Linked DNA regions of Homo sapiens. The protein of the gene in region 1 purifies or fractionates together with the protein of each later gene. This does not show direct contact. Each region holds a gene or a part of one and is shown in the gene's direction. Other genes may lie near its edges.

Evidence for each region.
Region 2: the proteins of CIMIP4 (region 1) and ATE1 purify together in Homo sapiens (affinity purification with mass spectrometry; 3 studies listed by BioGRID and IntAct, with this or other methods). This does not show direct contact.
Region 3: the proteins of CIMIP4 (region 1) and CARM1 purify together in Homo sapiens (affinity purification with mass spectrometry; 3 studies listed by BioGRID and IntAct, with this or other methods). This does not show direct contact.
Region 4: the proteins of CIMIP4 (region 1) and UBR2 purify together in Homo sapiens (affinity purification with mass spectrometry; 3 studies listed by BioGRID and IntAct, with this or other methods). This does not show direct contact.

Annotation. Positions count from the first base shown.
Region 1 is NC_000022.11:36,997,842-37,004,864, reverse strand, and holds part of CIMIP4 (ciliary microtubule inner protein 4), read left to right. Parts: intron 1-839; 5' UTR 840-877; coding exon 878-899; intron 900-2,561; coding exon 2,562-3,028; intron 3,029-4,880; coding exon 4,881-5,025; intron 5,026-7,023.
Region 2 is NC_000010.11:121,925,019-121,932,424, reverse strand, and holds the start of ATE1 (arginyl-tRNA--protein transferase 1), read left to right. Parts: upstream 1-4,393; 5' UTR 4,394-4,475; coding exon 4,476-4,581; intron 4,582-4,693; exon of another isoform or gene 4,694-4,922; intron 4,923-4,952; exon of another isoform or gene 4,953-5,534; coding exon of another isoform or gene 5,535-5,691; intron 5,692-5,718; exon of another isoform or gene 5,719-6,002; intron 6,003-7,406. UniProt on the Homo sapiens protein: Involved in the post-translational conjugation of arginine to the N-terminal aspartate or glutamate of a protein. This arginylation is required for degradation of the protein via the ubiquitin pathway. Does not arginylate cysteine residues.
Region 3 is NC_000019.10:10,916,543-10,923,565, forward strand, and holds the end of CARM1 (histone-arginine methyltransferase CARM1), read left to right. Parts: intron 1-153; coding exon 154-235; intron 236-3,052; coding exon 3,053-3,138; intron 3,139-3,334; coding exon 3,335-3,424; intron 3,425-3,893; coding exon 3,894-4,031; intron 4,032-4,116; coding exon 4,117-4,206; intron 4,207-4,291; coding exon 4,292-4,404; intron 4,405-4,507; coding exon 4,508-4,585; intron 4,586-4,832; coding exon 4,833-4,901; intron 4,902-5,072; coding exon 5,073-5,215; 3' UTR 5,216-6,533; downstream 6,534-7,023. Other genes in the region: protein YIPF2, read right to left, coding at 6,749-6,865, 6,953-7,023. UniProt on the Homo sapiens protein: Methylates (mono- and asymmetric dimethylation) the guanidino nitrogens of arginyl residues in several proteins involved in DNA packaging, transcription regulation, pre-mRNA splicing, and mRNA stability.
Region 4 is NC_000006.12:42,567,025-42,574,047, forward strand, and holds part of UBR2 (E3 ubiquitin-protein ligase UBR2), read left to right. Parts: intron 1-6,709; coding exon 6,710-6,969; intron 6,970-7,023. UniProt on the Homo sapiens protein: E3 ubiquitin-protein ligase which is a component of the N-end rule pathway.

The DNA of each region.
Region 1 (7,023 bases):
AATACAAAAATTAGCCAGATGTGGTGGTGCACACCTGTAATCCCAGCTACTCAGGAGGCTGAGGTGGGAGAATTGCTTGAACTTGGGAGGTGGAGGTTGCAGTGAGCTGAGATTGCACTACTGTACTCCAGCCTGGGTGACAGAGTAAGACCCTGTCTCAAAAAAAAAAAAGAAAGATCACATAAGAAAACAAAACACAAGCACGAAAGCTGCAGAGGCTTTTGAATCTACCCCTCTAATTTGAATCCAAGGCCTTAGAGAGAAGACTGAGTTTACACCAGAGCAAAGTGTGGGTTCCTGCTCTTGGTTCTCCTTCGTGGTGGCTAAGCTGCTTCCCTTCCCTGAGCACGAACGACCATTCAGCAAATGGATACAATCCTATTTGCAGGAAGACAAATGGTTGCCAGGATGGGAGCCGGGGCAATGGGCTTCACAGCCAGGGGCCTGCTAGGGTCTCCTAGGGTGGTGGTGATGGGGCAGAAGAGGAGGAGGAGATGAAAGGAAAAATTATGAAGGAGTAAAATGAGCCCAGGGTTCCAAGGCTGCTTGAGATAGGTCTTTGAGGACTGGTGGGGTGGGGTGGGGGTGGCCAGGGCTTTTCAGAGAGGGCAGAGGCTGCAGAAGTCCAGGAGGCAGCCCCTGTGCCAGGGGTGATGAGTGAATGGGGCAGAGGCTCCGTGGGTCTGGGCAGTGCCAGAGGGCACCAGGGGCAGCTTAGGAACCTCTGATCAGGGGCGGGCAGACAGCCACAGGCCTTCCTGTTCAGCTCCCAGCTCATCCTTGTTCACAGAAACTCTGTGTGTTATCTGAGACGATGAAACGTGGTGCTTTGTTTACAGGACTAAGCTTGGAATTGCCTGTCCCACAGCAAGAGGCTATGGAGCTGGGCCACGGAGCAGGTAGGACAGGCAGACCAGGGATGTGCTGAATGCACATCCAGGCTTCTGGAGGGACTCCCTGGGGCAGCAGGGCACCGGCCCTTTCTCCTCCCGCTCCGTCTTGTGTTGGCCTCCAGACCCACCATCGGCCCAGGCTTCCTAGGGGGGCATTCTGTTGGAAGACAGAAGGAAAAAGGAGGGAACGGAATTACTGAGCCCTCCCATCCTGCCATGTGCAGGGATTATCACCCCGATATGGTCTCCATCCTGAGGGGGTGACTCAGGTGCTCTGAGTCTTGTGTGTACCAGAAGGGCAGGGCTGTGGGGGAACATGGTGAGGGGCCTGGCCTCAATGGATGGGAGGTATATATGGGGTTACACGTGAGCCAAGAGCAGGGGTAGTGTAGCCCAAGGAGTGGAGGGGAGTGTTCCAGGCAGGAGAAATAGCTCAGGCAAAGGCTTGGGAGGGAGAGACGGCTGGCACTTTTGTGGAGTCCCGAGAGCAGGCACTCTGCCCTGAGGACAAGAGGAAAGATTTTGATGCAGGCGTGACTGAGTCAGGCCCGCTCTGAGAATGGTCCCCAGGGGTGAGTGCAGGTTGGCTGGGGCTGGCAGGTGGGATGGGGAGAAGAGAGTCCAGTGAGTTGGGGCAGCGATCCTGCTAAAATCTTCCTCCAATGACCTGAATGCCCAGGGGCTTGTTAAACACTCAGATTCAGGGCCTTTCTGATGCAGCAGCTCTGAGAGGGTCCCAGGCATCTGTATTTTTAATGAGAGCCTAGGGAATCCTCATACATGGCCACATTTAGATAAACTCTGCGGAGGTTTATCATCCAGGGGATATGATGGTTTAGCTTGGGCTCAGAGGCCTGACGGCCAAGATGCCCAGCCCTTATGTATCTTTTAAGAGGACTTGAAGTTTTGGAGGGAAGACCACCAAACATATTTACAGCTGTAATCTGGGGTGGAGGATGAGGCCAGGCTGTGAGGAGACACTGAAGGCTGAGAGCAAGAGACCTAGAGAAGCGGAGGCTGTGGGCAGGGACGTGGGAGACAGGGAGAGGCGGGGAGGAGAGAGCCTGGGAGGTGGCTGGGATGGTGCCACTTCTCAGCCCTGGCGAAGGGAGGAGGTAGGTATTGGGGAGCAGTCTTGCATTGGAAGCAAAGTCTGGAAGTCCCATCCAACTCCAGTACTTCCCAGGCATGTGGCTTAGCCCCAGGAACGCCTCTGCCAGTGCCGCTGCTGCCAGATTCTCACTGCGGAGAGTGAGGGGGAGGTTTCAAGATGGAAAAGTGGGGAAGGGAACTATCCAAATGGAGCCAGGGACATGAAAGCACAGACAGGCCAAGTCCCTTGCTTGCGGTCACACAGCTAGGCCTCAAGGCGGGACAGGCTTAGGCGGCAGCCCTTGTTGCCCCAGGCAATGTGGACTAACCCTGCCCGTGGGAGGCACGCAGGCTGGCCTCTCTTCTCCCATTGTGTCTCCTAATTTCCCACCCATGCCTCTGGTTCCTGCGCTTCCTCTCCGTCCCTCTCCCCTTCTCTGGCTGTGGAGCTCTGGGGCTCTTTGTCTGTCCGTTTCCCCTCCTCACCCCCATCTCTGCCCCCTCCCCACCCTCTACTTTCTGCCCTTGTCTGCGTGTCTCTCTCCCTCCCCCTCTGTTTCTCTTTGTCCTGCTCAGGTACAACCACTTTCACCAGGGCCCATCTGAATGACAAGGAGGGCCAACAGGACTTGGACCCCTGGAAAGCGGCCTACAGTTCCTTGGACACCTCCAAGTTCAAGAACCAGGGTCTGTCATCCCCACAGCCCCTGCCCCTGGGAGCCAGCGCTCAAGGCAGCTCCCTAGGGCAGTGCCACTTGAAGGAGATTCCCCCTCCACCCCCGACTGCTGCCAGCAGGGATTCTCTGGGCATGGACCCACAGTCCAGGTCCCTGAAGAATGCGGGCTCTCGATCCTCCTCGAGAGAGAACAGGGCCACCTCGGGAGAGGGGGCTCAGCCATGCCAGGGGACGGATGACGGTCCCAGCTTGGGGGCTCAGGACCAGAGGAGCACGCCCACGAACCAGAAGGGCAGCATCATTCCTAACAACATTCGCCACAAGTTTGGGAGCAATGTGGTGGACCAGCTGGTCTCCGAGGAGCAGGTGTCATAGCAGGGGCCAGGAGGGTGATGCAGAGTCTTATAATGAGGACATAAGATAAACTCACTCTTGAGTACAGAGTCCCTATAATAATACCACTAGAAAGCAGTATCTCCTGAGCATCTGCTGTGTGCCAAACACTGTGCACTGTTTAAACTTCACATATAACAAGTTGTTACATCTTCCCAGCAACCCATGAGGAAGGTACTATTATTGTCCTCATTTTATAGATAAGGAGACCGAGGCTTAGAGGAGTTAAGTCAGTCAACCAAATTCACCTAACTGTGCGAGACGAGGGTGCAAACTGGGTCGGCAGATTCTGGAACTCTGATCCTTAATGACTTTGCAGTTAAAAGCCTTTTGTGTGAATTGGATGTTTTCCATGTGATCAAGTCTCCCAAAGAAGACAGCATTTAGTGGATGGATAGCATTTATTGGGAATCAGAAGACGTGCGTTTGAATCCTGGACCTGATCCTAAATGCTGGATGACTTTGGATAAGTTACTTACCCTCTCTGGGCTTCAGTCTCCACATCTGTAAAGCGAGGCAGTTGCACTAGATCAGGCTGACAAATACATGGTGAGCGTATCACAACCCTCCCAGCCTGCATTCATGGCAGACATCACTAGTCAATGCCAGCACTCTTTTCCACCCGATATAGCATTCCAGGCAGTCATTACAAATCAACTGACACGAGATAAAATTCATCTACCGTTTCTGGTCAAATGCTATGTTCTTTCTGTCCTGGCATTCTGAGACATATTTTTAAAGCCACCATCTCAACCCTCATAGCAACTGCATTGTGTGGAAGGTCAGGCAGGAGTTATTGCTTCCTTTATAACAGATAGTATAACCAAGTCCCAAGGAGGGGCTACGATCTGCTTGGGTCACAAAAGCTGGGGGTCAGGCTTCTCCTAGGCTCCCCTTCCACTCTGTCATCTTAAAGTGCAGTGACCCCACCACCAGCAAGTCTGGAAGGTCACAGTCTTGACATGTTCTGCCCCACTTGGAGGAACTTGTCCCAATTTGAGGTTGACTCTGTGGTCACCACCTCTCACCACCCTGCCCAGCCTTGGGAGAAGTCCTTTCTCTCTTCAGCCACCGTTGTCCCTGGCTGGAATCAAGAAATCCGTGTTTTCTGCCCATCTGTAACTTATGTCACAAGTGTCATTGAGCCAGCAAGTGTCAGAGCTGGAAGCCACTTCAAAGACCATCCAGTTCCACCCTGCCTTCACATTTTACATGTAGGGAAACTGAGGCCTAGAGTGGAGAAGAGGCTTGCTGAAGTCAACAGCTGATATATTGCAGAACTGGAACTCAAACCTAGGTGTCCTGCCCCTGGACCTGGGCTCAGCTTCTCTGTGTGTCAGTTTCCCTATTGGTATGAAGAGGGAGTTGGCCTCATTGAAAGTTAAGCACCCACCCAGAGCTGCCCTGTGTGGTGCCTCAGTTGTAGGAGGCAAGCCAGGGCTCTGTGCCCTGCCAGCCATGTGAACTGGGTGATCTTTGGTCTCCTGAGGCCCGCTTTCCTCATTTATAAAATGGTGGGAAGAGTGGCACCCTATAGAGACCCCCCGTCCCAATGTTGCAGGTAGCAGATGCTCAATGCTTGGAAGAGGTTTTATGATCATTAACTTGATGCCCCCCACCCACAGCAGTGCAGATGATGAGAGGAGTTGGGGCTGGGGCCTTTGTATACCCCAGCTCCCCAGCCCTGTGAATAGGTTGAGGGCTGCAGGCTACAGGTGGGATCGGGGTGGGGAGGGCAGGGTCAAGGGAGGAGGAGTTGGAGGGAGATATGGGGCTTGAAACTGCTTTTCCATCCCCTGTCTGTCATCCCTGCCTCCCTGCTCAGGCTCAAAAGGCTATTGATGAAGTCTTCGAGGGCCAGAAAAGGGCAAGCTCATGGCCCAGCAGGACCCAGAATCCTGTGGAAATCTCCTCCGTCTTCTCAGACTACTATGACCTCGGCTACAACATGCGGTCAAACTTGTTTCGAGGTCAAGTCAAAGGGCAAGGGTGGGGCCGTGAACACCCATGGTCTCCCAGGCATTGGGCAGGGAAGGCCTTTGGGGTTTCCACTCCATATGGGGTCTAGGACCCCAGGGCACATCTTCAAGGACACTTATTTCATGCCCATGTGTCCTCTATGTCAGCTTGCGAGTGCTGGGAACATCCAGTCCCCTGTCCTTGATGTGTGGATGATTCATCCCAGTTGGCAGTCAGGCACCTCTGGTCCCTCCCCTCCCATCCCCCCCTCCCCTCCCCTCCCCCCTCCCCTCCCCTTCTCTCCCCTCCCCTCCCCTCCCCTCCCCTCCCCTTCCCTTTCCTTCCCTTCTTTTGTTTTTTGAAGTCTCACTCTGTTGCCCAGGCTGGGGTGCAGTGGCACAATCTTGGCTCACTGAAATCACCACCTCACAGGCTCAAGAAAGCAACCCTCCCACCTCAGCTACCCCCCTGCCCCCATAAGTAGCTGGGACCACAGATGCGCGCCACCATACCTGGCTAATTTTTTTCTTTTCTGTTTTTTTTTTTTTGTATTTTTGCTAGAGGCAAGGTTTCACCATATTGCCCAGGCTGGTCTCAAACTCCTGGGCTCAAGTGATTCACCCACCTTGGCCTCTCAAAGTGCTGGGATTACAGGCATGAGTCACTGCGCCCTCCCCACCTCTTGTTCTTAATCTGCCAGTAGGAGGCCCAGGACCCAGTAGAACTGGGACTGCTGCTCCCCACACCCCTAGCCCCATCCCAGGCACCTTTGGTCACAGTGACAATATCAAGTTTCTTTGGTTCAAAGCTCAGCTCAGCCACTCACTAGCTGGGTATGACCTTAGGTGGGATCCTCAACCTCTGCAAGCCTCCGCTGCCTTCTCGGTACAGTGGGGATGATAATGAGAGTATGGCCCTTGCTGGGTCATTGGCAGGACTTTATGAAGTGCCACATGAAGGTGCTTGGCCGAGGCAAGTCGTGAGCACTCAGTAGCTGTCAGGCTATCATTTTTCTTCTCCAGAGCCTGGAGGTGGCGCCACCTGGGAAGAAAGGAAGGGTGGGTTGGAGGCTCTGACATTTACACAGGGTTTCCATTGGATCAGTGTAGTCCTGTTTGGTTGGGGTGGGGAGAGTGCTATTAGCTCCATTTCACGGGCAGATTTCAGATCATTTGCCTTAGAACTCTCAGTAGTCTGCATTGTGCCTAGGACTCAAAGTCAGGTGTTCCTTCTGCCTTCAAAGCCTCATAGTCTTTTCTTGACCACTAAGTCACCTCCCTAGCTATGATCCTGTTCCCAGGGTCTTCTGGATGGCTCAGATGCCTGTCACAGCACGCAGGGGCTTCTCTCTGCCCCACATTCTGGTTTGGCCTCATTGCAAAATGAGGCTGTTTCTGGTATGGCTCCTTCCTCTCTCCTCACTCCAGGCCCTCTCCAGTGCTCCCAGGGCCTGACAAACCTCTTCCACCTGGCTCGGATCCCTGTCACCTGAGGAACCAGGTGCCCACTGGAAGCCTTTCTGGAGTTTTCTCTGAGCTTGGAGAAGGGATGGTGTCAGGGAGGAAAGCGAGAATACAGTTCTGCTTGTTCTCTGTTCCGGGCCTTCCAGATCCTGCCTTCCAGTTCTCTCTTTAACAACTATCGGTCACCAAATAGCTATTCCATACAACTTTGTATGATAATGTCTACATAAATGTAAAATAATCTATTTTTAAAAATGTCCATGTCCCATCATCCCACCTGGGAAGTAGAACTGTGCCAAGGGTGTGCTGGAGCTCATAGCAAATTGCACCAGCTCACAAGAGGCAATTGTCTCTCTGAACTGACTGGCACATAAATGCTGTCTTAAAATTGGCCATGCTAGTAGTATTTACACTCTGGAAATTGGCAAACACTATGAATCAGGGCTTCACCCTGCCACACAGTGCTGTCAGTGTGCCCATCCATCTGTCCCTCTCTGTTTCCACCCACCCAGGGTTAGCCTTTATACTTGCTGTTTGAGGTTGGTG
Region 2 (7,406 bases), on another chromosome or scaffold:
GCCATTGCACTCCACCCTGGGTGATGAGAGTGAAACTCCATCTCAAAAAAAAAAAAAAAAAAGAAGTTAATGGGACCGAAAAATTTTTTTGTCACCATGTTATTGTCAAGTAAGAAAATGAAAAGCAAAGACAACTGTCTATTGCTAGCATCTCATAAGCAGAACGACATTCTAATAGTGTCCTCCATTTTCCCCCAAAAAGGAGGAAACTAAATGAAGCTATGTATTTTTTTTTTTTCATGGAAGACAAAAAAGTTGCCTCTGACCTTGAGCAAAATAGACATTTAGGAACTCACACAGCTCCAAACCTAGTATTTGTTTATCTCTTTTCCATTTCGATTTCTTTTATCTTTATTACCTTTTCTCCCTCCAAATGTCTGTTATTAGTTGTTTAACCTTGGGTAAGTTATTTAGCCTCTCTGATCTACATTTCCTAACTTGTGAAGTTGCTATAAGAATTAAGGGAGTTAACACATATGCTGGCCGTGCACAGTGGCTCACGCCTGTAATCCCAGCGCTTTGGGAGGCCAAAGTGGGCTGAGCTCCCAAGCTCAGGAGTTTGAGACCTGCTTGGGCAACATGGTGAAACCCCGTCTCTACTAAAAATACAAAAATTAGCCAGGCGTGGTGGTGTGCACTTGTAATCTCAGCCACTTGAGCCCAGGAGGTTGAGACTGCAGTAAGCTTTGATTGTGGCACCGCACTCTAGCCCGGGTAACAGAGTGAAACTGCCTCAAAAAGAAAAGACAAGCCAGGCGCAGTGGCTCATAACTGTAATCCCAGCACTTTGGGAGGGCGAGACAGGAGGATCACCTGAGGTCAGGACTTTGAGACCAGCCTGGCCAACATGGTGAAACCCCATCTCTACTAAAAATAAAAAATTAGCCCGGTATGCTGGTGCACTCCTGTAATCCCAGCTACTCGGGAGGCTGAGGCATGAGAACTGCTTGAACCCAGGAGGCAGAGGTTGCAGTGAGCCAAGATCATGCCACTGTACTCCGGCCTGGGCAAGTGTTAGACTCTGTCTCAAACAAACAAACAAACAAACAAATCAAAAACCAAAAAACACCACATATGCCTAGGACTTTGGACATTCTCATTATTTTTCAAGGCTGGCATGTCTTGAAGTGCCCTGGCTGAGGTTAGTGTAGGACTTAGGATAAGGATGAGGCTTTAGAGGGACAGAAGTGAAGTGGGACAGGAATATTAAGACCAAAAAGCCTCCTGGTCCACCTTCTGTCCAGAGCATATTCTGCTCTCTTTCTGATGCATTCCACGGGCTTTGCTTTTGTTCAAAATGAGAGCCGGTCTGGGAAAGGACTGGGAATAGTCAAATCTGCCATAAAGAACAAAATGGATGAAGCTTGACTTAAGAACATGAATACTGAGATATAGCATGCAGTTTTCAAGTTTAAGAAGTTGGAGGAACGCCTGAGAAGCTGCTGGATATTACATGGCCACTCCTTAGGTGCCTTCCGATTGTGGGAGGCACAAGTGATGCTTGGCAGTATTAACAAGCGTGGGGAAAACAAAGAGAGATCAGACTGTTACTGTGTCTTCGTAGAAAGAAGTAGACATAAGAAACTCCATTTTGTTCTGTACTAAGAGAAATTCTTCTGCCTTGAGATGCTGTTAATCTGTAACCCTAGCCCCAACCCTGTGCCTGCACAGACATGTGCTGTGTTGACTCAAGGTTTAATGGATTTAGGGCTGTGCAGGATGTGCTTTGTTAAAAATGTGTTTGAAGACAGTATGCTTGGTAAAAGTCATTGATATTCTCTAATCTCGAGTATCCAGGGACACAATGCACTGTGGAAGGCCACAGGGACCTCTGCCCAGGAAAGCCAGGTATTGTCCAAGGTTTCTCCCCATGTGATAGCCTGAGATATGGCCTCGTGGGAAGGGAAAGACCTGACCGTCCCCCAGCCCATAAAGGGTCTGTGCTGAGGAGGATTAGTGAAAGAGGAAGGCCTCTTTGCAGTTGAGGTAAGAGGAAGGCATCTCTCTCCTGCTTTTCCTTGGGAATGGAATGTCTCAGTGTAAAACTCGATCATACGTTCTATTTACTGAGATAGGAGAAAACCGCCTTATGGCTGGAGGTGAGACATGCTGGCGGCAATATTGCTCTTTACTGCACTAAAATGTTTGTGTAAAGCCAGACATAAATCTGGCCTACGTGCACATTGAGGCATAGCACCTTTCCTTAAACTTATGACACAGAGATCTTTGCTCACGTTTTCCTGCTGACCCTCTCCCCACCATTACTCTATAGTCCTGCCACATCCCCCTCACCGAGATGGTAGAGATAGTGATCAATAAATACTGAGGGAACTCAGAGACCAGTGCTGGCGCGGGTCCTCCGTATGCTGAGCCCTGGTCCTCTGGGCCCACTGTTCTCTACACTTTGTCTCTGTGTCTTACTTTTTTTCTCAGTCTCTCGTCCCACCTGACGAGAAACACCCACAGGTGTGGAGGGGCTGGCCCCCTTCAACAAGTCACCAGGCCACCAAGAAACCTCCTTCAGCTAGGTACATATCTAACACAGGCCCTTGGGGTCAAGAATGTCAAAACTCACCTCAAAAATTTATTTCTATTTCTCTGAGTTTCATTTCACTTTTTTAAACACACTTAAAACAATATTGTATCATCAGCTTTATTGTTGACTGGGAAAACTATGAGGACAGACAGGCTTAAATTATCTGTGCACGCAGAGGGAAAGATAAGGCATATTACCTTGTTGGAACTCTTTTTTTTTTTTTTTGAGATGGAGTCTCGCTCTTTCGCCCAGGCTGGAGTGCAGTGACGCGATCTCTGCTCACTGCAAGCTCTGCCTCCCGGGTTCACGCCATTCTCCTGCCTCAGCCTCCCGAGTAGCTGGGACTACAGGCGCGTGCCACCACGTCCCGCTAATTTTTTGTATTTTTTAGTAGAGAAGGGGTTTCACCATGTTAGCCAGGATGGTCTCTTATCTCCTGACCTCGTGATCCACCCGCCTCGGCCTCCCAAAGTGCTGGGATTACAGGCGTGAGCCACCGCGCCCGCCCCTGGAACTCATTTTTTAAAAAATTTTTTTGAGATGGAGTCTTGCTCTGTCACACAGGCTGGAGTGCAGCGGCGTGATCTCGGCTCACTGCAAGCTCCGCCTCCCGGGTTCACACCATTCTCCTGCCTCAGCCTCCCGACTAGCTGGGACTACAGGCGCCCACCACCACGCCAGGCTGATTTTTTGTATTTTTAGTAGAGACGGGGTTTCACGTGTTAGCCAGGATGGTCTCAATCTCCTGACCTCATGATACGCCCGCCTCGGCCTCCCAAAGTGCTGGGATTACAGGCATGAGCCTCAATTTTATATTTTGCCCTAGACTCTTATTCCTTAAATCTTCCTTAAAATAGTGGTTGCAAAATGGAGGCCCATGGGCTGGATTCAGCCTGTAAAACTGTTTTGTTTGGACTGTAGAGTTAAAAAAAACAAACAAACCCTGTATTTCCAGCATCTCATTAAAAATCGTATGAGGCACCGGACTTATAGTGGTACAAGACAGCAACTGTCTCTAGCTGACAGTTGTTTCCTTTAAAAGCCGTTAAGAGTTCTTTAATTTGCGAACCCTCGCCATTCACGGAATACCTGCTTGTGTTCTTGTATTCAGGGCACTGGAGTGCGTGCCAGCTGGTCTGGAAGCAGCTCCAGCAAGTCACTTACACGGTGGCCAGGGGCGGCCTGACTTTCAATCCGAGACCCGCCGGGAATGACTTTGGGATAATCACAACCTCCGGTCCTCAGTTTCCTTACCTGTGAAATGGGGCTGATAACGCACAGCTGTGGGAAGCACCGGCCCAAACGCAGGGCTTGGGGACACGACCACCATCCCCGCCCACGGGTCCCCGCGCCAGGCTTCGCTCTCCACCCCTCCCGCCGCGGGCCCCAGCGCTTCGCCGAGGTCGGCCCCGGGCGCCAAGAGGCGTGGTCGGCCCGAGCGGACCCTCGCGGCGGCCATGGCGTCGGTGGTGGAATACAAGGGCCTCAGGGCCGGCTACCACTGCGGCTACTGCGATTCCAAGGAGGGCAAAGCGTCCTGCGGTGAGTGTTCCCGACGCCGGAGTTGGCGCGGCCGCCGCGCCCCGCACAGGCCCTCGGCGGGGGAAAGGGCAGGCTCGCACCCCGACTCCCGCTTCCCTTCCCCTCTTGACTCTCCCCATCCTGTTTCCCTTCCCGCTCTGTCTCTCCGCCTCACCCTCACTGACGACGGCGGCCCCTTATGGAGAAGGAACGGAAATAGTGGAAAGCTGCCCTCGGTCAAGATGGCGCGGGCGGCGTCAGCTCCAAGAGGCGCCGGGCCGGCCGGGCCTGCGGGCGCCCGAGTGGCTTCGCGCGAGCCTCGGGAGGCTCCCGGGCGGCGCGCTGCATTGTGGGGTGGCGGCGGCGGCCGCGCTAGCGACGCGGGGCCGGGCGGCTGAGCGTTCGCGGGGCCGAGGCCATGGCTTTCTGGGCGGGGGGTTCGCCCAGCGTCGTGGACTATTTCCCTAGCGAGGACTTCTACCGCTGCGGCTACTGCAAGAACGAGTCGGGCAGCCGCTCCAATGGTGAGCGAGCCGGGCCGGCGGGCGTGGGAAGCCGGGCGCCCGGGTCTCGGGATCCCAGGGTCCCCCAGCGAGGACGCGAGGGGGCCGGAGCCCCTGGCCCCAGTGCCACGGCCGAGACGGAGGGGGCACTCTCGGGAGGGCCGCGGCGCCGGCTTAGCGGGGCAGCTTCGCGGTGCCTGTTCTGCAGGAAAATCCTAACCGGTGCCCGTACTCTCGAAATCGTGGTGGTCTCCCCAGAGTCGGGAGACGGACGCCCGTCTGGGGTAGATTGTGTGAGGTGAAGGACGGCGCGCAGTGCCAGGGAACGCCCCAGAGCCGTAGTTAATGGCCGGGGCTGACCGGTGGGTGCTGCGGTGGGAGCGTCCCGGGAGCGAGGGCGAAACGCGGTGCAGAGGGAGCTGTGGGTGTGCACACAGGTGCCGGTCATGTATGAATCAGACTTCCCTGGACGAATGTACAGGAAGGATGAGCCCTTTGCATCTCTGGGTTAAAAAAAAAAAAAGTTAAAAAAAAAAAGGACAAGAAACTGGTGACCGCGGTCGCTACCGGCGAGGGATTCTGTTTGTCCTGATCTGTTTGAAATTTTTACCATTTGCTTATATGCCGTGTCTTTCCTCCACCCACCCGGACGACAGCAAAGCCAGCCCACAAGTTTGTTTTGTTTTTCCATCGTGATTCAGATTTCTTTGGGGGAGATTTGTTGCTGGTAAACAAAACATCGTGTTTATTTCCTCTCTTGCCATGCATTTGCCAATATAGAATGTAGACTCTATTATTTTAATAGAACAGTCTAGCTTTGTGGAAAACGAGATTCGCATGAAAACACACAGGCATTTTCCATGAAAAAGGTGTAAGTGGGGAATGATTTGGTCGATAACGGTGTGTGCATTTGCTCCTTCATTAAAAGTGTTTATTAAGTGCTACTTGTGGGCAGCGGTTTTGAGTAGACAGTTATGCAATCGTTAGAAGTGAGGATTATGAAGACTAAATGGAAAAATGCTTCCAGTTTGGACTTAAACGGAGAAAATCAACAGGATGCAAATGGCTTATGCGACATGATTACAGTTCTGAAAGGAAGAAGGCCCGGAAGTACACCAAATCGTGACAGTGGTAATATGGCCTTAGAGTATTGTGGATTTCTACCTTCTCTTTTTCAGAATTTTTGTATTTTGGCTATAATATTTATCAAATCAATAAGTTACATTAAACGTGCCTAAAATTAATATTTTAATAGGTCATTACTTATTTTTTTCCAATAATTGTGATAAGAGAAAATTGGCTAACATAAATGTCTTGTATTTCACGTTTTGTCGAAGAAACCTGCCTGCAACCTTTCCATCAAGAGAAAATAATCATCAATTTCTAGTATCTCGATTTTAATTTTAATACTCTTTATTATGGGGCATCTACTTACTTGGTAGGTGAGTTTTATTTTTTTATTTACAGATGATGAAATTGAGGCTTATTGGGTAACTCCTTAGTGTGAGTGAGTGCCTGCCAGGTGTCGGGATATTTCTGTTGGACTCCAGTGCCATGCTTTTCCCACTATATTCTGCTCTATCAAGCCTGTCATATCTCTGATGTGATTTACTGTTTACAAAAGGGAAAAATCCATTTATTTATTTATTTATTTTGAGACACAGTTTCACTTTTGTTGCCCAGGCTGGAGTTCAGTGGCACAATCTTTGCTCACTGCAACCTCCACCTCCCAGGTTAAAGGGATTCTCCTGCCTCAGCCTCCCGAGTAGCTGTGATTACAGGTGCCCGCCACCACGGCCGGCTAATTTTTTTGTATTTTTAGTAGAGACGGGGTTTCACCATGTTGGCCAGGCTTGGTCTTGAACTCCCGACCTCAGGTGATCTACCCGCCTCGGCCTCCCAAAGTGCTGGGATTATAGGCATGAGCCACTGCACCTGGCCCATTTCTTTTTTAACTTTAATTTTTTTTTTTTTTTTAAGAGGCAGTCTTGCTCCTTTGCTCAGGCTGGAATGCAGTGGTGTGTTCATAGCTTACTGCAGCCTCAAATCTCAAATTCCTGGTCTCAAGCCTCCTCCCACCTCAGCCTCCCAAGTAGCTGGGACCACAGGCACAGGCCACAAAACCTGATTAATTATGATTATTATTTTTTTTTTGTGAAAACAGAGATTTGGTATGTTGCACAGGCTGGTCTTGAACTCCTGACCTCAAGTGATCTTCCATGTTGGCCTTCCAAAGTGTTGGGATTATAGGCTTGAGCCACCACCTCATGAAGCCTTTAGTTCTGATATGCCTTTAAATGTTTCCTCATAGTCTTCGTTTTTTTTCATAGTTGCGTGATTATTCCATCATGTTGACAACATCATAGCCCCTGTAATCATCTTCCTGTTCCTTGGCATTTGAGTTACTTTCTTTCTTTCTTTCTTTTTTTTTTTTTTTGAGACAGAGCTTCACTCTTGTTGCCCATGCTGGAGTGTGGAGTGCAATGGCTCGATCTCGAGTCACTGCAACCTCCGCCTCCTGGGTTCAAGCGATTCTCCTGCCTCAGCCTCCCAAGTAGCTGGGATTACAGGCATGTGCCACCATTCCCGGCTAATTTTGTGTTTTTAGTAGAGATGGGGTTTCACCATGTTGGCCAGGCTGGTCTCAAACTCCTGACCTCAGATGATCTGCCCATCTTGGCCTCCAAAAGTGCTGGGATTACAGGCGTGAGCCACTGTGCCCAGCTGAGTTACTTTCAGTTCTTACACTTAGAAGGAATATTGTTACATACTTTTCTCCAATTTTTGATGCTCAAGACTGTACTGTAAATATATACCTGTATATAAATCAGGAGAACTAATAAGCA
Region 3 (7,023 bases), on another chromosome or scaffold:
CTCAGGGACAGCCCCAGCTCCCCAGAGAGCCTGCACTCCTCTTTTTCTGAAAGACTTGGGCTAGATGAGGGCTGACTGGGAGAGAAGGCAGGGCTACCCCACCTGCCTCTTCTGCAGCCCTGACCTTGCTGTGGGGGTGGGGCCTGTCCACAGGTACCAGCCATCTTTCCATGGAGTGGACCTGTCGGCCCTCCGAGGTGCCGCGGTGGATGAGTATTTCCGGCAGCCTGTGGTGGTGAGTAGGGCCTCCAGGGTACTGCTGCAGTGATCACTTGCCATTGCTGTGCAGCTGTGCAGCCCTCAGGAAGCTACAGCCCCTCTCTGAGCCCTCTCCTCTGCCCTGCACAGCGCTCTCACAGAGATTTGGGCCAAAAGTGTCAATGCATGTAGACACTTAGCACACAGCACACATGCAATACATGTGGAACATTATTAGGTGAGGCTAAGGCAGAGGGGGCATTTAGGCTCAGGAGTTCAAGATCAGCCTGGGCAACACAGAGACGCCATCGCTATTTTTAAAATTAAAATAAATAAATAATAAAAATAAAAAAGAACCATTACTAGATGAATTTATCCTTGGTGAGCTGATGTGATTTATTGATTGATTTTACTTGAGATTTTTGATACATAGATCCATGATTTAAAAATCAAAAGGAAAAAAAAGCTAGGTGCAGTGGGTCACACCTGTAATCCCAGCACTTTGGGAGGCCAAGGCGGGCAGATCACGAGGTTAGGAGATTGAGACCAACACGGTGAAACCCCATCTCTACTAAAAATACAAAAAATTAGCCAGACGTGGTGGCGGGCGCCTGTAGTCCCAGCTACTCAGGAGGCTGAGGCAGGAGAATGGCGTGAACCCGGGAGGCAGAGCTTGCAGTGAGCCGAGATCGCACCACTGCACTCCAGCCTGGGCGACAGAGTGAGACTCCGTCTCAAAAAAAAAGAAAAAAAGGTTCCATTTTATTCTGTTTTCCCCCTGCTCTTGATGTTTTTCATTCGTTTTGGGAGACTCTTGGACTATCTTGGATACTATCTCTTTAAACACTACGTCTGCCCCATTCTTTCTCCTTCTGGGATTCCAATTACGTGTACAGTGAACCTTTTCACCATATCTCAGATGATTGTTATACTCTTTTCTGTCTTTTCCATCCATTTTTTTCTCTCATTTTCTTTTTCTTTTTTTTTTTTTTTTTGAGACGGAGTCTTGCTCTGTTGCCCAGGCTGGAGTGCTGTGGCATGATGTCAGCTCACTGCAACCTCCACTTTCCGGGCTCAAGCGATTCTCAGACTCCTGAGTAGCTGGGAGTACAGGCGCTTGCCACCACTCCCAGCTAGTTTTTTGTAATTTTAGTAGAGATGGGGTTTCGCCATGTTGGCCAGGCTGGTCTGAAACTCCTGACCTTAGGTGATCCGCCTGCCTCGGCCTCCCAAAGTGCTGGGATTACAGGCGTGAGCCACCATGCCCAGCGTGTTCAGTCTTTTGTGATATCACTGGGGAGTGAATGAGTGAAAAAAGCAGGAAATATTTTGGTGGTATTATGCAAATTTTGTATTATGATGAGGGTGCCTTGGAAGAGGCCACAGTTTGAGAAGGTGCTGCTTTATGGTACAGCCTTTGGTAATGTTAATGCAAGTCCAGTGGTTAGCCTCATTACCAATATGCTGCTGAACCACCCGTTAGCTTTTATTGTTTTTTGAAACAGGATCTCACTCTGTTCCCCAGGCTGGAGTACAGTGGCTCAATCACTTCATGGCTTACTTCAGCCTCGATCTCCCAGACGCAAGTGATCCTCCTGCCTCAGCTTCCCAAGTAGCTGGAACTATAGGAGTGTGCCACCATGCCCGGCTAATTTATTTTTTTGTAGATATGGGGCCTCACTGTGTTACTCAGGCTGGTCTTGAACTCCTGACCTCAGGTGATCCGTCCGCCTCGGCCTCCCAAAGTGCTGGGATTATAGGCATAAGCCACTGCACCTGGCGTTGAGCCTCTTATTAGCGGCTTTCTGCTTGGTGTCTTAGCCTCTGATGCCCTGCCTCGCTCAAAGCTCAGGAGTTGGCCAATTTCACAAGCGCACTGAGTGTGCACCGCCCACCTTGCCCTCCTGCACTTATTTCCCTTTGCTTTGACATCACAGCCCCTTGAATCCGAGCTGCCTTGGTAACCCTGAGCTCCCATTTTGCTTTCCCCACCCAAGGAAGCTGCTGAAAGGTCGAGGTGGCCGTTTTCTGCCCTCCCCATGGGGAAAAGGTAGAGGCCAGAAAGGGCTCCCTCCAGAAAGGGCATTTCCCTCCTTTCCAGGAGCTTGATCCCCAAAATCCTGGCCGCTCTGGTTGGTCACCAGTGCTTCCAACAACTGGTTTATTCTTTTCTTTGGATTTTATTCGGTTTACATAGTTCATGGCAGGTGTGTTAGTCGGATATAAACATTGCTGGGAGTGGACAGCAGCACTAGTGTTGTTGTTGTTTTTAAGAGACAGGGTCTCCCTGTGTTTCCCAGGCTTGATTCACACTCTCGGGCTTAAGCGATCCTCCTGCCTCAGCCTCCTGAGTAGCTGGAGTTACAGGCATACAATTCCACACCCAGCTAGCACCTAGTTCTTTAACTTGCTTTTTTGGTTAACTTGCTTAATGATTTAGCTTGGAGATCTTTCCTCATCTGTTCATAAAGAGCCTCTTCATTCTTTCTCACGTCCGCATGGTCTTTGATGGGAGAGCCATCACTGGTTTAATTAGATGGTTTCCAGTGTGTCGCTACCACGGACAATCTAATTATACATGTAAGTTTGTTGATGTGTTCATGTATCTGGAGGTTAAACTCCTGTAGTGCCAAATCTTTTATGTGGATAAACACTTGTCATTTGGAGAGCTGTCACCTGATTGCCCTCGGTGGCGTTGTGCCGGTCCCCTCCTCACGGCGTGTCTGGGAAGAGCAAGCTCGTTTTAGCTGCACAGCCTAGAAGCCGTGGGCAGACCTGGGGGAAGGGGCAGGGCTCTCCCCTCCCATGCTGGCCCTGGCGTCAGATGCCACGTCACACCTGTGGTCTCTCCCAGGACACATTTGACATCCGGATCCTGATGGCCAAGTCTGTCAAGTACACGGTGAACTTCTTAGAAGCCAAAGAAGGAGATTTGCACAGGTACTGGCACCCACACTCCATCCTCCCAGGCCTGGCTCAGGCCGAAGGTCAGGGCCACCCCTGGCTCCCGCCGGCATCCTGCCGTCCCAGGGCAGATGGTGGGCGGGGGCCCCAGGCCTCTGCACCTGGCACCCCCTCTTCTCTCTCGGCAGCGCCTGTCTGGCTTCCCCAGCAGCCACTGCCCTTTGCCTTCCAGGATAGAAATCCCATTCAAATTCCACATGCTGCATTCAGGGCTGGTCCACGGCCTGGCTTTCTGGTTTGACGTTGCTTTCATCGGCTCCATGTGAGTGCCGCAGAGCAGCCCATGCTGCCTCCTCCCCACTCCCAGGGCTTCCTGCAGCTGCAACCTGGCTGGGGGGGTGGAACATGGCTCCAGGTTCCACCATCCCTTCCAATGGGAGTGAGAGCCTGTCTCGGAGCAAGAGACTGTTGTGGGTGGGGTGTGTGTGTGTGTGTGTGTATGTGTGTGTGTGTCCTGTGTTCCCAGTGTCTGTCCCTCATGGGTCTGTGTCTGTCTCTTGGCACATGTCAGGGTGAGTAGGGATCTCGTGGTTGCGGGCCCCTCGTGTGTACATGTATGCCTGCTCATGTTTGTGTCTGGGACTGCCTGGGGGCCAGCCTGTCTCTGCTCCAGGGTCCCAGGGGTCCCTGGCAGAGGGGGCAGGTGCTTGGGGAGGACTCAAGGCATACAAGGTGGTGGCTCCAGTGGTGGCGCCGGCCCAGTCAAGTATGTGCCTGTCCCTGCTCCACAGAATGACCGTGTGGCTGTCCACAGCCCCGACAGAGCCCCTGACCCACTGGTACCAGGTGCGGTGCCTGTTCCAGTCACCACTGTTCGCCAAGGCAGGGGACACGCTCTCAGGGACATGTCTGCTTATTGCCAACAAAAGGTGCGACTGCTCCCTGGGGCTGGTGGTGGTGGGCAGGGGTCCATCTGCCCAGCAGCTCATGCCACGGCCTGCACCCTGTCCGCAGACAGAGCTACGACATCAGTATTGTGGCCCAGGTGGACCAGACCGGCTCCAAGTCCAGTAACCTCCTGGATCTGAAAAACCCCTTCTTTAGGTAGGAGGGGCCCCTTGCCTGCACAGGGGGGCGCCCCGGCCCTGCAACCCCCTTGCCCCTGCCCATGGCTCTGTCTCTGCCATAGATACACGGGCACAACGCCCTCACCCCCACCCGGCTCCCACTACACATCTCCCTCGGAAAACATGTGGAACACGGGCAGCACCTACAACCTCAGCAGCGGGATGGCCGTGGCAGGTGAGCAGGGCCCACCCCAATGCCCAGCCAACCCGGGAGGCCGCCCTCGCCGCAGGCCTGGCCCCTCTGCCTCCAGCCCTGACGTCTCCCTCTCTGGACACAGGGATGCCGACCGCCTATGACTTGAGCAGTGTTATTGCCAGTGGCTCCAGCGTGGGCCACAACAACCTGATTCCTTTAGGTGAGTGTCCCCCAGGGCCAGGGGCAGCAGGGAGCCATGCCCAGGACTGCCCAGGGGCCGGGAAGGGCCTGTGGTGACCAGGGTCGGCCTCTGCTTGGTCCTTTCACCTTTTCCTCTTCCTGGGGGCTCTCGGCCGAGGCTCTCCGTCCTCTCTGCCTCGCTCTGCAGCCTGCTGCTGTGCATGGGCTGGGTGGCTGGGGGCGGTGACGCCGTCTCCCTTCCTTCTTTCCTCCCTCTCGCTGCGCAGCCAACACGGGGATTGTCAATCACACCCACTCCCGGATGGGCTCCATAATGAGCACGGGGATTGTCCAAGGTAACGAGGGTGGCGGGGGCAGGGCCCGTGGGGGCCGAGCTAGCGTGTGAGTCGCCATCCTCTGTCCGGCCGCCCGCCTGCCCTCTTGCCTGCCCTTTCTCTCTCTCTGTGACTCTGCCTGGGGGCTGGGCGGGCCAGGGCAGCCCCTCACTGCCATTGCCTGCTCCACAGGGTCCTCCGGCGCCCAGGGCAGTGGTGGTGGCAGCACGAGTGCCCACTATGCAGTCAACAGCCAGTTCACCATGGGCGGCCCCGCCATCTCCATGGCGTCGCCCATGTCCATCCCGACCAACACCATGCACTACGGGAGCTAGGGGCCCGCCCCGCGGACTGACAGCACCAGGAAACCAAATGATGTCCCTGCCCGCCGCCCCCGCCGGGCGGCTTTCCCCCTTGTACTGGAGAAGCTCGAACACCCGGTCACAGCTCTCTTTGCTATGGGAACTGGGACACTTTTTTACACGATGTTGCCGCCGTCCCCACCCTAACCCCCACCTCCCGGCCCTGAGCGTGTGTCGCTGCCATATTTTACACAAAATCATGTTGTGGGAGCCCTCGTCCCCCCTCCTGCCCGCTCTACCCTGACCTGGGCTTGTCATCTGCTGGAACAGGCGCCATGGGGCCTGCCAGCCCTGCCTGCCAGGTCCCTTAGCACCTGTCCCCCTGCCTGTCTCCAGTGGGAAGGTAGCCTGGCCAGGCGGGGCCTCCCCTTCGACGACCAGGCCTCGGTCACAACGGACGTGACATGCTGCTTTTTTTAATTTTATTTTTTTATGAAAAGAACCAGTGTCAATCCGCAGACCCTCTGTGAAGCCAGGCCGGCCGGGCCGAGCCAGCAGCCCCTCTCCCTAGACTCAGAGGCGCCGCGGGGAGGGGTGGCCCCGCCGAGGCTTCAGGGGCCCCCTCCCCACCAAAGGGTTCACCTCACACTTGAATGTACAACCCACCCCACTGTCGGGAAGGCCTCCGTCCTCGGCCCCTGCCTCTTGCTGCTGTCCTGTCCCCGAGCCCCTGCAGGTCCCCCCCCGCCCCCCCACTCAAGAGTTAGAGCAGGTGGCTGCAGGCCTTGGGCCCGGAGGGAAGGCCACTGCCGGCCACTTGGGGCAGACACAGACACCTCAAGGATCTGTCACGGAAGGCGTCCTTTTTCCTTGTAGCTAACGTTAGGCCTGAGTAGCTCCCCTCCATCCTTGTAGACGCTCCAGTCCCTACTACTGTGACGGCATTTCCATCCCTCCCCTGCCCGGGAAGGGACCTTGCAGGGACCTCTCCCTCCAAAAAAAGAAAAAAAGAAAAAGAAAGAAAAAATAAATGAGGAAACGTGTTGCAGCACAGGCAGTTTTCTTCTCCTTCTGCTCCCCTGTTTCTCATACCCCCAAACTCAGATGCTGGAGCTCAGGCCCGCCGTGTGTGCACCCAGGCAGGAGCGGGCGCTGTCCAGGCTGGGCCGCCCCCTTGGCTCTCCCTCCTGTTCCAGGGGAGCCATAGGAGGGAAAGCAGGTGGCCCGGGGGGGATATGGGGGCCCCAGCCCTGTCCCAAAGCTCCCTGCTCGGCTGCCCCTCGCCCGCCTTTATATAAATTCTCTGAATCACCTTTGCATAGAAAATAAAAGTGTTTGCTTTGTAAGAAAAGTCTGGAAAGTAGCAGAATCATCTCAAGGTGTCAAAGGAGCCTTCAGTCATCGTCTGGGGGGCAGGACAGGCAGAGGGGTTGGTCCACTTAGGTGTTGCCTGAAAGAAAGAATTGTCTGGGAGTGGCCCCAGAACCTCTCGCCTTGACTGGGAGTGGGAGGGCAGCCCCCTTAGCCCAGCTGGGAATAGTCCTTACCTGTGGGACCCGGGCCTTCCTAGGAGGGGGCCAGGGACTGCGGCAAGGTAGGGGACAGCGCGATGTTTGAGGGCAGAGATGTGATTTGGGGTGGAGGAGCCACGTTCTCCGGAGGCAGCGACTGGAAGAAGTACAACTGCACAAGACCCCTGGGGTCAGAGGCAGGGCCAGCCCATGCCCCCCTAGCCCCTCGGCCCCACCTGTGGCCACCCCAGACCCGTACCTTACAGCCCATGGCCAGGAGGGCGTGGAGCAGCACGACCACGGACAGCAGCACTGTGGCCACCAGCCTGG
Region 4 (7,023 bases), on another chromosome or scaffold:
TTGAAAGCACATTTTAGGGAAGAGAAACAAGTAGAGAAAACAGTGATTGTAGGCTTTAGACCTCTGTCATTGGTAATTTGTTAGGATCACTTCCATTTAAAAATCACCTAATGAGCACTAGTGTCAACCTTTCCACATTTCATTTACACACCGCTTTTCTTATTCCTGTTATAAGGAGGAAGAACTTTTTGTGATCCCATCCATTCCAGCTAGTATGCCTCACAAAGAAAAGTATCTAAGCTGACTCTTTAATATTTGTAAGTTTAGGATATTACAGTGGCCCTCTCTTCTCATTCTTCTCTTTTCTTGTTAGAATTGACTCCATAAGTATGACTTTCCCAACACTTCTTGGCTCTGTTTACTTTCTATACTACATATGGTTATAGTATGTTCCAGTGAGTGATTACGGTTTTAAAAGTAAACATGCCGGGTGTGGTGGCTCTTGCCTGTAATCCCAGCACTTTGGGAGGCCAAGGAGGGCAGATCACAAGGTCAAGAGATAGAGACCATCCTGGCCAACATGGTGAAACCCTGTCTCTACTAAAAATACAAAAATTAACCGGGCATGGTGGTGCACCCCTGTAATCCCAGCTATTCGGGAGGCTGAGGCAGGAGAGTTGCTTGAACCCAGGAGGCTGGGGTTGCAGTGAGCCGAGATCGCGCCACTGCACTCCAGCCTGGGTGACAGAGCGGGACCCCATCTTTTTCCCTGAATATAAAAGAAATACAGGTTGGGAGCACTGGCTCATGCCAGTAATCCCAGCTATTTGGGAGGCTGAGGTGGGAGGACTGCTTAAGTCTAAGAGTTTGAGACCAGCCTGGGCAACATTAGCTATACCCTGTCTCTACTAAAAAAAAATAAAATAAAATAAATAAGCTGGGTGTGGTGGCATGAACTTGCAGTCCTAGCTACTCAGAAGGCTAAGCAGGGAGGATCGCTTGAGCCCAGGTGTTAGAAGTTACAGTGAGCTATGATCATGCCACTGTACTCCATCTTGGGTGATACAGTGAGACCCTGTCTTCAAAAAAAATTTTGTTTTAATAAATAATGAATTTGTTAAGTTTTATGTAGAGTTTTAGGTCTGTATTGGTTATCTTTTTGCTGTACATTTTTTAAACCGTTTTATTGAGATATAACTCACATACTGTACAGTTAAATTCAGTGGTTTTTAGTATATTCAGATTCATGCAATCATCACTATGATCAATTTTGGGACATTTTTATCACCCCAAAAAAGAAATCCTGTACCTATTGGCAGTCACTTCCCTTTCACACCTAAACTCCTGAGGTCTAATCAACTACTAATTTTTGTCTGTGTAGATTTGCCTATTCTGGATATTTCGTATAAATGGAATTCAACATATTGTCATTTGTGGCTGACTTCTTTCTCTTAGATAATGTTTTAAATATTTATCCATGTTGGGCCAGGCGCGGTGGCTCACACCTGTAATTCCAGCACTTTGGGAGGCCAAGGCAGGTAGATCACAAGGTCAGGAGATCGAGACCATCCTGGCTAACACGGTGAAACTCCGTCTCTACTAAAAAATACAAAAAATTAGCCGGGCGTGGTGGCAGGCGCCTGTGGTCCCAGCTACTTGGGAGGCTGAGGCAGGAGAATGGCATGAACCCGGGAGGCGGAGCTTGCAGTGAGTCAAGATCGCGCCACTGCACTCCAGCCTGGGCAACAGAGCGAGACTCTGTCTCAAAAAAAAAATAATAAAAATAAAATATTTATCCATGTTGTACCATGTACAGGTTGAGTATTGTTACGCTTGCCACCAGAAGTGTTTTGGATTTTGGATTTTTTTGGATTTTAAAATATTTGCAGTTATACCAGTTGAGCATCCTTAATCCAAAATCCAAATGTTCCAATGAGCACTTCTTTGAGCATCGTGTGGGCATGCAAAGTTTCAGATTTTGGATCATTTTGGATTTCACGTTTTCAAATTAGGGATGCTCAACCTGTGTCAGTAATTCTTTCTTTTTTATTGCCAAATGACATTCCTTTGTATAGATAAACCATATATTATTTATCTGTTCATCAGTTGGTGAATATTTGGGTTGTTTCTACTTTTTGGGTATTATGAATCATGTTGCTGTGAACATTTTTTACAAATTTTTGTGGGGACATATGCTTTTGTTTCTCTTGGGTATATACATACCTAGAAGTGAAATTGGTGGGTCATATGTTAACTATTTTGAAGAACTGCCAGATTTTTCCAAAGCAGTTGCATTGTTTTACATTCCCACCAGTAGTGCATGAGAGTTCCAATTTCTCCAGATCCTTGCCAACACTTGTTTTTGCCTGTGTTTTGATTACAGCCATTCTTTTGGGTGTTATGCCTTCTCATTGTGGTTTTGATTTGCATTTCCCTCATGAGTCATGTTGGAACATCTTTTTATGAGCTTATTGGCCATTTTTATGTCTTCTTTGCCTATTTTCAATTAGTCTTTTGACCTATTAAATTTCTATATTTTATTTGTAAATATTCTCCTTAATTTGTAGAGCTCTTAATATAATTTGTTTAAAATTTTTCTCAATATATTCCCTAAAACTCCCACTTAAACACTATTGTTTTTATGGTTATGAGCACTAGTTGTTTTATGATTAACTTACATGTTGCTTATCCTTGTTTGAAAGCAAAACCAAAAGTAGTTAAAGGATACAATTTTAATTGGGTATAGAATAATAGAGACTGTAATAAAAGGCTAACTAACCTCTAGGGATTCTTTCATTTTTCATTTCATTTTTATTTTATTGTACTTGCTTTCTATCCCAAGGCTTAAATTTAGTATTTAATAGAGGGAAAGCTCCTGGAAACATTGTCATAACATGTTTACTTTAGAGGAATGAGTTGACAGTTTCTTTACTTCCCTTAAGAGGGACTTGTAGTAAGATAGTGAATGCTTATTACTCTCTTATGCCACATGGGTGTGACAGCTACAAGTGTCTGAAATAAAGACAAAAGGCCAACCAAACTGGAAATCTTAATTTTTCATGTTGAAGAAACAGTTGCAGTTAGCATATGTTAGAACTAATATGAAAAGCTATAGATTTTATTCTTTGGGGAAATGTGTGAGCTACTTCTGAAAGACAGTCATAAATTTTTCTTGCTTTTTATATTAAGTATGTATGTTTAATCAGCTTAAAGTGCCTGTAATAGAGCCCAAATCTTTTAGGTGATTGTGATTTTTTCATATAATGGTAGTAAAGTTTTTGGTTTTGAGACGGAGTCTCACTCTGTCCTCCAGGCTGGAGTACAGTGGCGTGATCTAGGCTCACTGCAACCTCCACCTCCTGAGGTCAAGCGATTCTTTTGCCTCAGCCTCCCAAGTAGCTGGGATTACAGGCGTGCACCACCACTCCTGGCTAATTTTTGTATTTTTAGTAGAGATGGGGTTTCACCATGTTGGCCATGGTGGTCTCGAACTCCTGGCCTCAAGTGATCTGCCCACCTTGGCCTCCCAAAGTGCTGGGATTATAGGCGTGAGCCACTGTGCCCAGGAGTAGTAAAGATTTGAAAAATGGGGAGCATATGCATGCCTTTCTTGGACCAGACTTTTAAGTCTTGTTATTTATAATAATATGTAATAAAGAGTGAAATACTTGCTTGTTTTACTAATAATATTTTTATGTAAAGTGGCTAGTTTTTTTTTTGTTGTTTGTTTGTTTTTTGAGACAGGATCTCACTCTGTCACCCAGGCTGAAGTGCAGTGGCGTGATCATGCCTCACTGAAGCCTCAACCTCCGGGGCTCAGGTGATCCTCCCACCTCAGCCTCCTGAGTAGCTGGGACTACAGGCATGCACCACCATGCCCAGCTAATCTTCTTTTATTTTTAGAAGAGACAGGGTTTTGCCATATTGCCCAAGCTAGACTCGAACCTCTGAACTCAAATGAGCCACCCGCCTTGGCCTCCCAAGTGCTGGGATTACAGGCATGAGCCAAAGAGCCTGGCCGATTTTTTTTTTTTTTCTTAACCAGAAGCTGATACTAGCGTCTGAATTTTTGTTGAAGAAATCTATGAACAAATTTGCTCTCGTTACAGTTACTAGACTGCATAATTTTTTTTTAGAAAGCATCCATGCTAGCCTGTAGTCCCAGCTACTTGGGAGGCTGAGGCAGGAGAATGGCGTGAACCTGGGAGGCGGAGCTTTCAGTGAGCCGAGATCGCGCCACTGCACTCCAGCCTGGGTGACAGAGCAAGACTCCGTCTCAAAAAAAAAAAAAAAAAAAAAAAAGCATCCCTTCTAAAGTAACCTTTCATTCTTGTATTAAAATTTTGCAACAGTGAAGTTTTACAGGAATGGGAACATAAAATATAAGGAAAAAAACTGGTTTTTAAATAAAATCTTTCAATATGTTGTAAAAAAAAGTCCGAAGCACTTAACTTTCTAGGATCATGGAGGTGAATTATTTTGGTCTTATTGCTTAATTTTTCTTTCATAAAGAGTAAATTGAATCCTAGCACCTTTGGGAGGCCGAGGTGGGCAGATCACCTGATGTCAGGAGTTTGAGACAAGCCTGGTCAACATAGTGAAACCTTGTCTCTACTAAAAATACAAAAATTAGCCGCGTGTGGTGGTGCACACCTGTAACCCCAGCTACTCAGGAGGCTGAGGCAGGAGAATCACTTGAACCTGGGAGGCAGAGGTTGCAGTGAGCCGAGATCGTACCACTGCACTCCAGCCTGGGCGACAGCACGAGACTCAAAAAAAAAAAAAAAAAAAAGCGCTTAGGATCATTTGACTACCTTCATTCTTGTTTTGGTTTGCTGACAATGGGTGAAAAATGAGACATTTACCTTTGAATGAGGCCAAAACGAGGTCTTTTAGCTCAAAGAATAAGATTCTAGTATGCTTGTTGAGGACTCTTTTTCTTTTTTTAAAACTTGTCCTCTTTATAATTACTGAGCTTAAAGGATGTGTATGTATATATAAAATTTTGATTGAGTCACTCTGAAGGGAGAGAATACTTAAAGCCTGTAGGATTGTCTCCTAAGAAATGATGCTGCTGCTGCTGTTTTATTTTTATTTTTATTTTTTTTTCCCTAACCACTTGGCCACCAGGGAAGAAATGCTGTTGTTTTGAAAGTAATTTAGTCTCTTTCCTACTTGCATAATGTAAACACAACAATGTTAGTAATATTTGGAAAATAGTTTAGTTTCACTTTAAGCATGAAAACTCTTTCACCGTTTTTGGTTATAAGCTTCTATCCAGTCCCTTAACTTATGAACAAAATTTTTACATTTTTAGTAAAAGTTCTCTGAAAACAGAAATTGACTAGAAAGTTAATATACATCACCTCATGCATATTTAAAATCTCTCTGTATGTTGTTTTTAGAAGGAGTGGTCTGAAGAATATACAAGTAATAGCTAAAATGAAGACCTTATGTTGACTTCTTATGATGTTACATATCACTTGAACATACTTTTTTTTTTTTTTTAAATAAAAATGTAACTGGAATTAGGTAGTAATCCATAGGTAAACATTGGAGGTTTTTTTTAATTTCAGCTTTTACTTTAGATTTAAGGAATACATGTGCAGGTTTGTTACATGAGTATATTGCACCTGGGTAGTGAGCATAGTACCCAATAGGTAGTTTTTCAACTCACTTCCCCTTCCTCTTTCCCTCCATCTGTGGGTTTTGTTCACGGTTCAGTTAACTGCATTCTAGCAGAAGTGAGTCTTTTTTTTTTTTTGTCCTTTGAGACAGACTCTTGCTCTGTCGCCCAGGCTGGATCTTGGCTCACTACAACCTCTGCCTCCTGGGTTTAAGCGATTTCTCCTGCCTCAGCCTCTTGAGTAACTGTGATTACAGGCATGCGCCACCACATCCAGCTAATTTTTATATTTTTAGTAGAGAAGAGACTTCACCATGTTGGCCAGGCTGGTCTTGAACTCCTGACCTCAGGTGATCTGCTTGGCCTGGCCTCCCAAAGTGCTGGGAAGCTTTTCAGATTTTTCGGTGTGGATACCCAGGTTGAGCTGGAAATGGAGAAAATAACAGATTTTGGTGGAGCATGGAGGGGAGATCATGCATTCAGTTATTGAGTTGGTACCTATGAGATCTAAGTAGAATCATGCTTTAAAATTTGTTTTTAGTGGGGAGAGCAAACGGAAAAGGCCTTATAGAGAGAGAGAAGTTGATCAGAGAAAGAAGGCATAATTGGTACAACAGTCTCTTGTGGACTGACTTATTCAATAAGAGACTGGTATATAAACTTGCTTATCAATCATTAAGAAATGTGTATTGGCTGTTCATGTTCACCGTACATATTGGCTGTTCATATTCACCGTACACTCTTCCTATGGACAAACTGACGTGAGAATTGATATCACAATGAGAATAACATTTGAGCAAAGCATTAGGAAGGACATTAGGTGAGCTCAATGGTTCATATCTTATATAATGATTTCTTGTAATTATTTTCTGGTACTGCCTAGAGAAGATTGCTTCAAGAGTCATTTTGCAGGGAAGGAGGGAGGCTTGTTTCATTTTAATTTTACTTACACTTAAAAGTAGGATTTAAACATACTTGGCATTTTAATAGATTAAATTTCTAACGTACGGTGGTGAGTGTTGTAAACAAAATATTTTAATATGCTTTTGTCATTATTTTTGTACCTAAAAGAAAGTAGGGTGAATTTGTTCAAATTAGTTTGTTGGTGTTTAAAACCATTTCTTCTCTTTTCTTCTTTTAAAGAAATGGCTGCAAGCAACTGACCTCACTAGAGAAGTGTACCAGCATTTAGCCCACTATGTACCCAAAATCTACTGCAGGGGTCCCAACCCTTTTCCACAGAAAGAAGACATGCTGGCACAGCATGTTTTGTTGGGACCAATGGAATGGTACCTTTGTGGTGAAGATCCTGCATTTGGATTTCCAAAACTTGAGCAAGCAAACAAACCTTCTCATCTTTGTGGTCGTGTTTTTAAAGTAGGAGAGCCTACATATTCTTGCAGGTAAAATATTTTAATTTTCTTTCTAGGAGGCTCTTGTTTTATTTGACCTCTTTT